Regions from separate parts of the Homo sapiens genome. Here region 2 is linked to region 1. A link means that fine-mapping ties the variant in region 1 to the expression of a gene that starts in the linked region. Tissue or cell type: whole blood. Region 1 holds a variant in brackets; the other region holds the start of a gene. All regions are shown on one strand. Distances are from middle to middle.

Region 1 (7,544 bases):
CTGTACTTACAATTTTATGCATTTGATGATCTGAAGAATTTCCCACAGACAAGCTTCTGGCTCCGTATGTTTCAAACCCTATTTCTCCTCTACTACCCACATATTTCTAGTTGGTCATCATAGGACAGTTTATCTCATGAAGTTTGGGGTCTGTTCCATTGTCATAATGTCAGATGAGCCTGTGCAGTGGTGTCAGAGCATATGTGAAAGCCATTCCTCCACTGGGAGTGCTACGGTAGCTTAACCACACGTGGAACCGGCAGCTAAACCCAAATTTAATGTATCCCTCACTCAACTTCCAGTTAGCTGAATGCCAAAAATGCCCACTGTGGCTGGGTGCAGTGGCTCATGCCTGTAATCCCAGTACTTTGCAGGGCTGAGGTGGGTGGATCACTTGAGGTCAGGAGTTTGAGACCAGCCTGACCAACATGACGAAACCCTGTCTCTACTAAAAGTACAAAAATTAGCCGGCCTTGGTGGCAGGTGCCTGTAATCCCAGCTACTCAGGAGGCTGAAGCAGGACAATCACTTGAACCCGGGAAGCAGAGGTTGCACTTGCCAAGATCTCACCACTGCATTCCAGCCTGGGCGACAGAGACTCTGGCAACAAACGAAACAAAACCAAAAATTGCTATTTCATTATTGCCTGGCACAAGAAGCTGTGACAGAAAGTTAGAGTGGAAGGATGACTATTATGGTAACTTCATCAGCCAGTCCTCTCTCTTTCCTTCTCTTCCTGCTTTTAGATGCTGCCAATCATAATTTGCCACAGTTGTGGAAATCTGACAACCTGTTAATATCAATTCTGGTTTTGTTTGTTCGTTTGTTTGTTTTGGTGATGAAGTCTCCCTTCGTCACCCAGGCTGGAGTGCAGTGGCGCGATCTCGGCTCATTGCAAACTCTACCTCCAGGGTTCAAGTGATTTTCATGCCTCAGCCTCCTGCCTAGCTGGGATTACAGGCATGTGCCACCACACCCAGCTAATTTTTTGTATTTTTAGTAGAGACAGGGGTTTCACTGTGTTGGTCAGGCTGGTCTGGAATTCCTGGCCTCAAGTGATCCAACTCCCTTGGCCTCCCAAAGTGCTGGGATTACAGGTGTGAGCCACTGTACCTGGCCCAGTTTACTTATCAAATATTAAAATATTTACTCTGGTCAGTTTGTAGTTGCCACCTGGAAAGGACTCTCTCCAAGGGCATCCATAATCGCATGATTAGTAAACAAAAAAGTTTTTTCTTATATACATCTTTTTGGACATCTCTGTATAATTTGTTCACGTGACATTTGCTCACTTCAAGGTTGTTATAAGTTGAACTATTTTTGACTCTTTGGTTCCCTTGAAGTTGTTGGCTTCTAGTATCACTTTATCTGAGCCCTTCTTGGTCAATAGGTAGTTTTTATTTCAGCAGTGATTAGATTTCACTGTGCTAGAGAAAATGTTGACATTTTGCTGTGTCCAATGTCAGACAAAAAAATGTTTTGCTTGTAACAGCAGAGTATTAGAAACCATCTAAATGCCTATCAATAGGGGATCAATTAAATTGTGGTTGTGTATAGAGGTGTATATGTGTGTATTTATGTATCTGTCTATGTAATTACATATGAATACATGTAATTATTAAAAGTAACATCTATATGTGGACATACCTGTGGAAACACTATTTAGCAGAAAAAGTGGGCTGGAAAATAAGATATATAATAGGTATTTTATGGTTTAAATAGGTGTAGGTTATAACATGTTATTTTCTTATTTTGTATATAGCATTTTGTCATTTGTAGAGCCCTTTTACATATATTTTTGTTTGGATTTTGAACACAGTGACCATTTGAGATTTGGAAAGGAGGCAGGTATAATTTTATGGGTGAGAAGCTAATAGGGAAATAACATAGTGGGGCAGTAAGAACTGGAGAGACTGAGAATCAAATCTTGGCTATTACATCCTGGCACCGCTTCTTGCTATCTATATGTCACAGAACCTTAATTTCCTTATCTGTAAAATGGGGCTAATATCTACCTCATAAGGTTGTACTGGGGAACTAAATGATAAAAAACAAGAAGTGCCTATAAGGTGTTTGATTTGTATGTACCTGTAATCAATGAGTAATGAGTAGAATATTAATGTTTTATAACAACAAGAGTTTTCCCTCCCTGATATATTATTTATTGCTGCATAACTAATTACCTTAAAACTTTGTGACTTAAAACAAGACATCTTAGGCGGGCCACAGTGGCTGAGACCAGTAATCCCAGTGCTTTGGGAGGCTGAGGCGGGAGGATCTCTTGAGGCCAGGAGTTTGAGACCAGCCTGTGTGAGACCCTGTCTCTACAAAATAAAGAATTATCTGGGCATGGTGGTGTGCCCCTGTAGTTCCAGCTACTCGAAAGTTTGAGGTAGGAGGGTCACTTGAGTCTAGGAGTTCAAGGTTGCAGTGAGCTATGATTGCATCACTGCACCCCCTGGGTGACAGAGGAAGACCCTGTCTTAAAAAAGCAAACAAACAAGAATCAGATCTTTCTTTTCTTTTCATTTCTGTGTGTCAGGAATTTGGGGGGTGGCTTTGCTCTGGTTCTCTCAGGAGGTTGCAGTCAAGCTTTTGGCTAGGGCTATGTCATCTGAAGGCTTGCCTGGGGCTGGAGGACCTATGTCTAAGACGGCTTGTTCAACATGGCTGTTGGCAGGAGGCTTTAGTTCTTGGCACCTATACCTCTCCATAGGGCTGCTTGAGTACCCTCAAGACATGGCAGCTGGTTTTTCCCCATCATGAGTGGTCTAAGAGAGAGCAAGGCAGGAACCATGCTAACTTTTCTGACTGAGCCTGTGCAGTCACACACCTGTGAAGTCATTTCTGCAAGGTAATAGGTCAGCCCTATTCATTGTTGCAAGGGTCTTGTCACTCTCCTCCTGGCTTCTGCCCTTGTCCTCACTGTAGTCTGTTCTCCGCAAAGTAGCTGGTGGCCCTTTTAAGACCCAAAGGAGATCCTGCCACTCTCTGGTGCTTCCATCACACTCAGAGTGAGAGCCGCATACCTCACTGCACCCAAGCGCTCTTTGGGTCTGACCTCCCTCCTGTGATTCTCCCTAGGGGCCACCTGACCCCCTTCCCAGGGATCTCACCTTGCTCCCCACTCTGCCTCCAGTGCTCTTTCTCCAGACAGCTGTCCCTTATATGTTCGGCAACTCTGTCTCAAATAGCACCCTCCAGGGACACTCTGTCTAAACTTTATTTATTTTTATTATTTTTTTTGAGACAGAGTCTCACTCTATCACCCAGGCTGGAGTGCAGTGTAGTGGCGCGATCTCAGCTCACTGCAACCTCCGCCCCCAGGCTCAAGCAGTTCTCTTGTTTCAGCCTCCGGAGTAGCTGGGATTACAGGCGTGCGCCACCATGCCCAGTTAGTGGTTTCACCATGTTGGCCAGGCTGATCTCGAACTCCTGACCTCATGTGATCCACCCGCCTCGGCCTCCCATAGTGCTGGGATTACAGCTGTGAGCCACTGCGCCTGCCCTAAACTTTATTTTATGTTAAAATTTTTTTAGAGTCTCACTCTGTCACCCAAGCAGGAGTGCAGTGGCACAGTCTCCACTCACTGCAACTTCCGCCTCCCAGGTTCAAGGGATTCTCATGCATTAGCCTCCCTGGTAGCTGGGATTACAGGTGTGCAGCACCACATCTGGCTAATTTTTGTATTTTTAGTAGAGACAAAGTTTTGTCATGTTGGCCATGCTGGTCTGGAATTCCTGGCCTCAAGCGATCCACCCACCTCAGCCTTTTGATGTGCTGGGATTACAGGCATGTGCTACCATGCCCAGCTACTTTTTGTATTTTTAGTAGAGACAGGATTTCGCCATGTTGGCCAGGCTGGTATGGAACTCCTGGCCTCAAGCAATCCACCCGCCTCAACCTCCTGAAGTGCTGTACTCCCAAAGGGATTACAGGCATGAGCCACTCTTCCTGGTCTCTGTGTCTAAACTTTCGAACACCTTTGCCCCAGCTATGCTTTGTTCACCTTCCCTGCTTCCATTTTTCTCCTTCGTTCTTATCACTAACTCACTCTTTTTAAATGTAATTTAAAAAAAAACAACTCCTTTATTAGACTGTGAGCTAAGAGCAGGAGTTTTTGTCTGTTTTGTTCACTGCCACAACAAATGGTCTATTAGATTTGCATATCCGTGAAGCCATTTTTATGTTAATATTTAAGAATGTAGGTGTTACCTTCCCACACAAATATGGTTGAAGTTAGCATACCAGAAACATTTGTAACTCATC[A/G]GTACAGTGTGTTATTTCTTGCCCAAGATTACTAGATCTGATTACTGGGGTGAAAAAAAGGGGAAAGTTTAGGAGTTTCCCTTATGTGAACTATTTCTTTTGTGAATTGATTGCAAGTTAGGCATGTAATTCAGATGGAGAATTAAAGTCTATGGTGCAGTAGAGAATTATAAGAAGAGCTATTAGGAGAAGCACAGTGTGTATATTTAAAGACCCATATCTTTTGTGTTATTGACAAGTAAAAATCTCTATATTTACTGTGTACAGCATGATGTTTCTAAATGTGTATACAATGTGGAATGGCTCAATCCAGTGAGGTAACGTGCATTATCTCACATACTTACCTTTGTTTTTTTTTTTTGTGGTGAGAACATTTAAAATCTACTCTGTTTGTTTGTTTGCTTTTGTTTTTGTTTTTTTTGAGATGGAGTCTCACTCTGTCGCCCAGGCTAGAGTGCAGTGGCACGATCTCAGCTCACTGCAACCTCCGCCTCCCGGGTTTCAAGTGATTCTCCTGCCTCAGCCTCCCAAGTAGCTAGGATTACAGGCGCCCACCACCATGTCCATCTAATTTTTGTATTTTTAGTAGAGACGGGGTTTCACCGTGTTAATCAGGCTGGTCTCGAACTCCTGACCTCAGGTGATCCACCTGCCTCAGCCTCCCAAAGTGCTGGGATTACAGGCATGAGCCACCACACCCAGCCTAAAATCTCCTCTCAACAATACAATGCAATACATTGTTGTTGACTAAGTCACCATGTTGTACAATAGATCTCTTGAACTTATTCTTCCTGTCTAACTGAAATTTTGTATCCTTTGACCAAGAAGACCCATGTCTTTAATGTGTTGACTTAGAAAAGACCACATATTGTTAGGAAAGAGGTTCTGTGTAGAAGTATTGACAATGGGAAAGGCAGAACCACTCTTCCATTCGCCTGAAGACACTGACCAGGCAACCAGGAATTGTAGATGTGGGTTTTCTAATGGCTCATTCAGCCCCCATCTGCCAGCTATGTGAAAGTTACTGTGCTTGGTGCCTTGGGGGTAGATGGGGATGGACTACCCTGCCCCCTAAAAGCTCCGGAGGCAGAGGCTGCAAGATGGTAAGGATAGAATGCAATCACAGATGAACCAGCTTTCCTGGGAGAGGGTGGGATAAGCTGATGTCTGGCAGGGAGAAGCAGTCAGGGAAGACATGGGGAGGAGGTGGCGGCATCATCAAGTGGAGCATTGGAAAGCATGAGTAGGACTTTCAGCAGGTGGAGAAAGGCCCCAGAACAGCCCGTGCCTTGGATGCTGCTGGCATTTTAATCATCTGAAGATCTCATCAGAAAGCAGATTCTGATTCTGTAGTTCAAGGGGAGGAAGCAGAGATTCTGCATTTCCCACAAGCTCTAAAGGACAAGTCTCTAGAGGACCACAGAGCTGCCTGCCTCTGCTTCCTTGACTTTTGAGGTGGAGGCCAGCCTGGAAGCAGCGGCATAGGCTTCAGATGCCACTGAACTGGGCGGAGCGGGAGCCTGAGACTGATCTGGCTTTAGGTGCTCGAAACCTTTCTTTGATCACAGGGCCATTAACTCCGCCTTTGGGCCTCCTCCTTCTCCTGAAATCCCCCTTTAAAAGTTCACTTGGTAATTTCTATCAATATCTATTTGATTTTATGATCTATGAACTCTTAGGACATATTGCCAGAATGGTACTTTGGTCCTTCAGAAAAAAATTTATTCTTTTTTTTTGAGATGGAATTTCGTTCTTGTTGCCCAGGCTAGAGTGCAATGGCGCGATCTCAGCTTACTGCAACCTCTACCTCCCAGGTTCATGCGATTCTCCTGCCTCAGCCTCCTGAGTAGCTGGGATTACAAGCATGCGCCACCACACCCGGCTGATTTTGTATTTTTAGTAGAGAGGGGGTTTCTCCATGTTGGTCAGGCTGGTCTTGAACTCCAGACCTCCGGTGATCTGCCAACCTTGGCCTCCCAAAGTACTGGGATTACAGGCATGAGCCCCCGTGCCCAGCCTAGAAATTTATTCTATTATTGGTAGATTTCTTAATGTTTTTTAATAAGCTGCCATCTTGTTGTGATCAAGTTCAAAAAATATATTTTTTAAAACCATATGAATTAATTAGGTGCGCCTCTTGTTCCCACCTAATTGGGGGAAAAGGAGATTATACCAATCATTGTTTTAAAGCCGTCAGGAGTCCCAGTTAACCTGTGTGACTTTAGCAGGAGCCACCAAGGTAACTGCAGATGGCACAAGTCAGACACCATCAGAATTCTGCTCTCCCAGTGTTTGGGATAATTGTGGTAGAGACCATGAATTAGAAACACACATAGGCAACACCCACTTACTTATTGGTGGCAGGAGAAGACCTAGAAACATTGTAGAGATGTTTCTGCTTCCTCCCAAGGGCCAGCAGTTTACACCCGGGGGCCACATCACACCAGATTGATTTCAGTGTATGTGGTGGGGCCTTCACTGTTTACATTAGTAATTTGATCCTTCCATTAAGACCCCTGCACCTATTCTTTAGGTAAGAATTGAAGCAGGTCTGATTTCCGACAGTTACACTGCTGTCCCAGAGGAAAACTCAGTGGCAGTATGTTGTTGTTCAGTGTTATATAAGCATGGCAGGTACGTATGTCCGCAGATGTATACTAAACATATACGTACATATATGTTTCCAATTTTCTTCCTAGATCTTGGCCCTGATTGCATTCATCTGCATAGAGACCATCATGGCATGCTCCCCGTGTGAAGGCCTCTACTTTTTTGAGTTTGTGAGCTGCAGTGCGTTTGTGGTGACTGGCGTCTTGCTGATTATGTTCAGTCTCAACCTGCACATGAGGATCCCCCAGATCAACTGGAATCTGACAGTGAGTACAAGCGGCCACTCTGGCCATGAAAGGATCACGTGCCTGTTGGCTCCAAGGAAAAGCTGGAATCTCTCCAGGTCATGTTTGGTTCTAGTTCATTTTGATCCTTAAATATTCTATTATAATTCAACTGTGAAATTTTAAATTTCTTTACTGGGTTAAGTAAAACTACAAAATAAACTGAATCTTAACTAATGGGAGAAACATCATAACAATTATTTTGGCCACCTTAAAGATGTCATTTCAATTTTGCAATCATCTGAGAAGACTGGTCATGTTGATATTTGGAGAATATGGGAAATAAAATACAGTGTAGACATTTACATACTTTTCAGACTGGACCTAAAAGCCATTTATAAAAATATTGATTCTGGAAGAATTGAAAATATGAATGAAAA
Region 2 (6,027 bases), 35 kb after region 1:
TGGGAGGATCACCTGAGCCCGGGGAGGTCGAGGCTGCAGTGAGCTGTGATCAGGCCACTGCACTCCATCCTGGGTGAGAGAGAGAGAGACCCTGTCCGCACCCGCCCCTACAAAAAAAAAAAACCCAGCATGGCCCAGGCTCACACCTATGCTGCCTCCCAGTCCTGGGCATGGCCCTGAGTCCTCACCTTACCCCACCCCAGCTCCCTGACAGGACCTAGTCAGAAAGCCCCAGCCTTCCAAGCACATGCACTCCACTCAGTGCCCTGCGGAGGGAAATCAAAGCGAGGCAGGAACCAGTTTCCAAAAAGTAACACCCAACACCAAAGACGTGTGCTCGTCACTGAATGTAGATTTCACCTTGAAAAGAAAAAACCTTGAACCTTAATGATATGCGTCCTGAAGTGTTCAGAGTTGAAATGTCCTGATGTCTGCAATTTATTTTGTGTTAAAAGATAAAATGCCTTGATGGACAGATAGATAAAGCAAAAAAATCTTTTGGAGTTTTAATGTATTTGCAAATTTTCATAATGATAAGAAAGGAACATCTAACAGAGGGTGCGTTGGCACTGACACCTCAGGCCCTGCTGCCTTATTCATACAGGGCCAGCTGTGAAAGGTGGGGCCAGCTGTACTTGAACTACAAGAATCAAAATGTTCACTGTGGTCTTGCCCACAACTCTGTAGGTGGGAAGAGCTGATGCAGGAGGATGTTGAGCCCTGGGCAGTCCTGCAGCCCAGGTACGCTGCAGAGCAGGCCAAGGTGACCTGTTGGCCAGCCTGGGGCTCCACAGTGCCTGGTACCCTGAGGCTCACGGGCATCTCCTCTGACCCTCACATCCACCCATGAGCACAGCCCCACTTGACAGATGAGAAGACTCTGTCACATGGCTAATCAGAGGCTACTAGAATTTGAACCCAGGGCTGGCTGACCCCCCAGATAGAGTTATCTTACCTCCGCCCCAGAGATGGAGTCTTGCTCCGTCTCCCAGGCTGGAGTGCAGTGGCACGATCTCAGTTCACTGCAACCTCCACCTCCGGGGTTCAAGTGATTCTCCTGCCTCAGCCTTCCCGAGTAGCTGGGATTACAGGCGCCCGCCACCAAACCCAGCTAATTTTTTTATTTTTAGTAGAGACAGGGTTTCACCATGCTGGCCAGGCTGGTCTCGAATTCCTGACCTCAGGTGATCCACCCACCTCGGCCTCCTAAAGTGTTGGGATTACAGGCATGAGCCACCACGCCCGGCCCAGGTAGAGTTCTTAAGCAACTTGGCCCTGTGGGTGTTGGGGAGGCCATCTGTCCCTGGTTTCTGTCACTGTGGCTGCGTTTGAACATGTCTATGGCTGAGTAGTTTCTAGTGGGTGCAGGAGTCCCCATGGGGACACCCAGATGCCCCACAGGAAGCACTGTGGCTGCTTCAGACAAATGAACTGCAGGGATCCCAGGGGGTCCCCAGAGCACCCCCATTTGCTCTGCACATGGCCTTGGGTGCAGCTGAGCCCCCTTTGGAAAGATAGACTAAGGCATAGAGACGGGCTGGGAGGCTGCTGGGGCCTCCCAGGAAGGCCTTCCATGGGACTGACCCAGCTCTGGCCCTCCCCTTCCTGTCTCCTATGCCTGCACCCCAAAGCCTAATTCTGGGGATTCCCCTCTCAATTCCTGTTTTTTCATCCCGCGATTTCTGGGGCCACTTCCTCTCTCTGTTTCTGTCCATCTCAGCCTCTGCACTTGCTTGGCCTGGGGGTGGGAGTGAGGGGACTAGGGAGGCAGGAGTGCCCTCAGCGGCTCCTGTGAACCCTGAGTGCTGACCGTTCACCCTTCCTTATCCTCCCTGACCTGGATTCCTGACATCTGCTGGGCCCAGGGTGGCCTCTATGCTCCTGCTGGACATATGCCTCCCTCTTATGAGGTGGTCTTGGGTGGGGATGGGGGGGTTCAAGCCACTCTGGGGACGGTGGATTCGAGGCTTCTCCCCTCAAGTGGCTCCCAGTGGTCTCCAGGGTGGGGCTGGGAGTGTGGGCTCGGAGTGTGGCATTGGTGTCTCACTTGGGCGTTGGGCAGGTGGCCTCTGGGCTGACCGTGGGAGAGGCTGCAGGACCACCTTCTGCCCTCTGCCCTGAGTGACCAGGGAGAGGTCCCGGAGCAGAATCCCCCTTCCTCCTGCCCCCACCCTCCTGGCCGCTCTCACTGGGCCCCTCAGTTGAGCCACCTGTCAAATCAGGCGCCTGAGCGCTCTCATCTGTAAAGTGGGGACAAGGGCAGGAAGCGCCAAGTTCCTGGGATCTAAGCAACAAGTGGCCGCCGCCGTGCGCCGCTCTCTCCTCCCGCCTCCCCCGGTCTCCGGCCCGGCCTCTCCCTCCCCATCCCCAACGGCCCAGCGCCACCCCTACCCCACAGCGGACAGTGCGGGCGCCTCCGGTGTCCAGAGGACAAAGAAGCCCCACCGGCCGGGGTGGGGGCGAGGGCGGAGTAGGAAGGAGCCCGGCCGCGGAGGGGAGGAGGGCGATGAAGTCACCGCGGGGCCGCCTCACCCAGTCCCGGGGGTGGGGGATCCCTCCCGCTCCGCACGGCCCCCCGCCGGCTCGGCCCCGCAGGTCGAGGCCCCGGCCCGCACTACCCGCTCGCAGGAAAGCGGACCCCGCTGCGGCCCGGGAGTCCCGGAGGTCCGAGTTGCCCGAGTCCCCGGGGCCCAGAGAGGGCGGGGGCGCCTGGCTCACACAGCAGGACCCACATCCCCGGGCCCCACCCACTTCCCACGGCCCCCAGCTCTGGACTCGCGGGGACAGCGCCGCGGATGGCCTGGGCTCGGGCCCCGCCCCGCCGTCCAAAGTTTGGGGACCTCGACCCAACTTCGCCAGGCGCCCGAGAGAAGTCGGCCGAGGCGGCGCGGAGAGGGGGTATCGGAGCACGGCGGCCGCCCCCGGACCCCACCCGCGCCCCGACGTCCTCCTCCGAAAGGAGCCGCGCAGTCCTAGCGGGGCGGCCGAGGGTCCCGCCGCACTCACCGACTCGGCCAGCAGGAGGCGGCCTTTGAGAGAGCAGAGGAAAGCCCGCGCCGGCAGCAGGGCGCGGAGCCCGGGGACCGCGGGGCCGGGACGGGAGCCGCCGGCAGGCTCGGGGTCCGGGTCGGGGTCGGGGTCTGGGGGCCACATGGCGGCGGCGGCGGTAGGGCCGGGGCTCGGCCTGGCTCCCCTCTTCTCGCGCCCGGAGGGAAGCGGAAACCCGGGCTGTGCGGAAGGAGGGCAGGCGACACTGGCTCGCGCAGGGGCGCATCCCCCGCCGCCACGCCCCGCCCCGCCCCCACCCGCTCCTCCAGCCCGCCCCTCCCCCTCGGACCCCGGCTGCGGGGGATGCTGGGCCCGACCCGCCCCCTCCCCGGCCTGGGGCCTCCGCAGACTCCACCTTCTTCTTCACCCTGGTTCGGGCCGCTGGAGACCTCCCGATCACCGCCCCGGCACCCCTTCGGAGCTCCCACCCGTCTGCCCCTATCCAGAAGGGCTGTCTATACTCGCTGTCTCCGGTCTAACTTCCTGCCCGTGCGCGTGTCTGGGATCCGGGAACCCAGGCGTCTAAACAGCAAAGACCCCGGCCGTGATGTCGGCTCCGCAACCCATGCCCTCTCTTTTTCTTGGGGGCCGGAGTTTTCTTGCGACTTTCTTGGCCACCCCTCCTGTCCCCGGCCAGCCCCACCCTCCTCCAGGGCCTCTTTGTTGGCTGTTCCAGGCCTCGGTCCTGCACCCGCCTCCCCCAACCCATTCTCAGAGGACTCTCAGACCTGCAAGCGCAGCTCCAGGCACACACACAGACACACACACACGCGCGCGCGCGCGCAAACACACACAGGCACGCACATCTGCAGGACTTCCTGACCTGCAGTCCCCCCACCCCAACACATCTCTCTCTCTCACACACACACACACACACACTCCACACGCACATGCGTGCACATCTAGAGAGCGTCTGGAGTTCAGCGTGATCAAGACCCAGCTTCCTGTGCCTCTGCGAAGGGCACTGCCCCCTCCTTTCCTTCCACCTGACTAGCGGAGACCTGCGGGTTGTCCTTGTCCCTCTTCACCGGCAGTCTGTAACCAAGGTCCTCCCACTTTCACCTCCTATAACTTTCTCTGATCTCTGTCTACTTCTCACCACCACTAGATCCGAAACCATTCCTGCCTGCTCCCCGCTGAACTGCTGTGATGGTGTCTTTAAGAGGCCCTTAGGTTTTCTCTCTGGGCAGCCGGGGGAGAGCTTATGGCACAGTACTGCGCACCCTTGACATAACTAACTCCATCTTAGAAAAAGACTTCATTTTATATTTCATAGGGTGCTTTGCCAACAAGGGCAAGATGTTTTGTTTAATAAAAAATAGAAGGTCAGGCGCTGTGGCTCATGCCTGTAATCCCAGCACGTTGGGAGGCTGAGGTGGGTGGATCACGAGGTCAGGAGTTCGAGACCAGCCTGGCCAATATAGTGAAACCCCGTGTCTACTAAAAATACAAAAATTAGCTGGGCGTGGTGGCACCGTGCCTATAATCTCAGCTACTCAGGAGGCTGAGGCACAAGAATCGCTTGAACCCGGGAGGCATAGGTTGCAGTGAGCCAAAATCACACCACTGCACCCCAGCCTGGGCGACAGAGCAAGACTCTGTCTCAAAAAATAAAAAAAAAAATAAATAAAGACTGCGTCCAACCACATAAGGACACAAAGAAGCACACTGTTCCTCTACCATTTCTCACCAGAGCACTCTGTGACTACAAAACAGCAGCCCAGCAGCCTTAACTGACAACCATCCCACTGCCGTTCATAAGAACTCTGCATCTGCCTCCCAAGGCTCTGCCCCTCAAAGACTCTGCAAGACCCTCAAGCCCAGACCAGGATTCCTTTTGTCTTCTTCCTTACCCTGGAACTGGTTCCTTAACCCTTTCTCCTATCTCTTTTTCTCTTGATGTTAAATGCTACTTTGTTTGTTGTGGAATGTTTATAACATTTACATGTGGATTAAGTATACTATTATATATGGTTTGCAATATTGACTGACTTGTGGAGTGGCTTGAGCCCATGTGCTCACTACTGAGTGAACGGGAAGTACTAAGGAAAATTGGCTCCTTGGGTCTGGGTGCAGTGGCCCATGCCTATAATTCCAGCATTTTGGGAGGCTGAGGCAGGCAGATCACCTGAGGTCAGGAGTTCGAGACCAGCTTGGCCAACATGGCGAAAACCCATCTCCACTAAAAATACAAAAATTAGCTGGGCGTGGTGGCACAGGCCTGTAACCCCAGCTACTTGGGAGGGTGAGGCATGAGAATCACTTGAACCCAGAAGGCAGAGGTTGCAGTGAGCTGAGATCGCACCACTGCACTCCAGCTGCACTCCAGCCTGGGCGGCAGAGTGAGACTCTGTATGAAAGAAAAAAGAAGAAGAAGAAGAAGAAGCAAATTGGCTCCTTGGGATAGCTTGTGGCTTTTGTTTTTTTTTACCCTTGGGTATAGGGTGAATAAAAATCTGACACTGTGGAAAGACACAAACACGTGTGGACCTAGTTATCTCTTTTTTCTTTCTTGAGACAGAGGCTTGCTCTGTCACCCAGGCTGGAGTGCAGTGGCATGATCTTGGCTCACTGCAACCTCCACCTCCCAGATTCAAGGGATTCTCATGCCTCAGTCTCCCAAGTAGCTGGGATTACAGGCCTGTGCCACCACACCCAGCTAATTTTTGTATTTTTAGTAGAGACAGGGTTTTGCCATGTTGGCCAGGCTGGTCTTGAACTCCTGGCCTCCAACAATCTTCCCGCCTCGGCCTCCCAAAGGTTTGGGATTACAGGCGTGAGCCACCGCACCTGGCCAGACCTGATTATCTCTTGACCTTGTACCACTCATGACAATCACCAGTCATTGATCACTTTTGATGGCAGCCGTGGCTCCAGACAACCTGCTGCTATCATCACCCAGCTGCAGCAGGGAGGCATGGCCTGGGCTGCACACTCCATGGAGCAGGCAGGAGTCCTGCTCTCCCAGGTGCAGCTGCA

What was found. PIP is the estimated chance that this variant, and not a neighbour inherited with it, causes the effect.
Region 2: CMTM3 starts here. The variant in region 1 is fine-mapped to the expression of CMTM3 in whole blood (TOPMed, PIP above 0.99).

The regions. Positions count from the first base shown.
Region 1 is chr16:66,636,007-66,643,550 of GRCh38, reverse strand. It overlaps CMTM4 (CKLF like MARVEL transmembrane domain containing 4), which reads left to right. Exons shown (of 4, transcript NM_181521.3): 2 at 6,970-7,146. Among named protein-coding and RNA genes, the nearest start is that of CMTM3, 35 kb to the right of the region's middle. The variant A/G (reference allele first, on the strand shown) is at 4,271.
Region 2 is chr16:66,601,932-66,607,958 of GRCh38, reverse strand. CMTM3 (CKLF like MARVEL transmembrane domain containing 3) reads right to left here and starts at 3,255. Exons shown (of 5, transcript NM_181553.4): 1 at 3,007-3,255. The coding sequence starts at 3,153. It also overlaps a transcript of CMTM4 not described here. RefSeq lists silencers at 2,251-2,470, 2,531-3,370.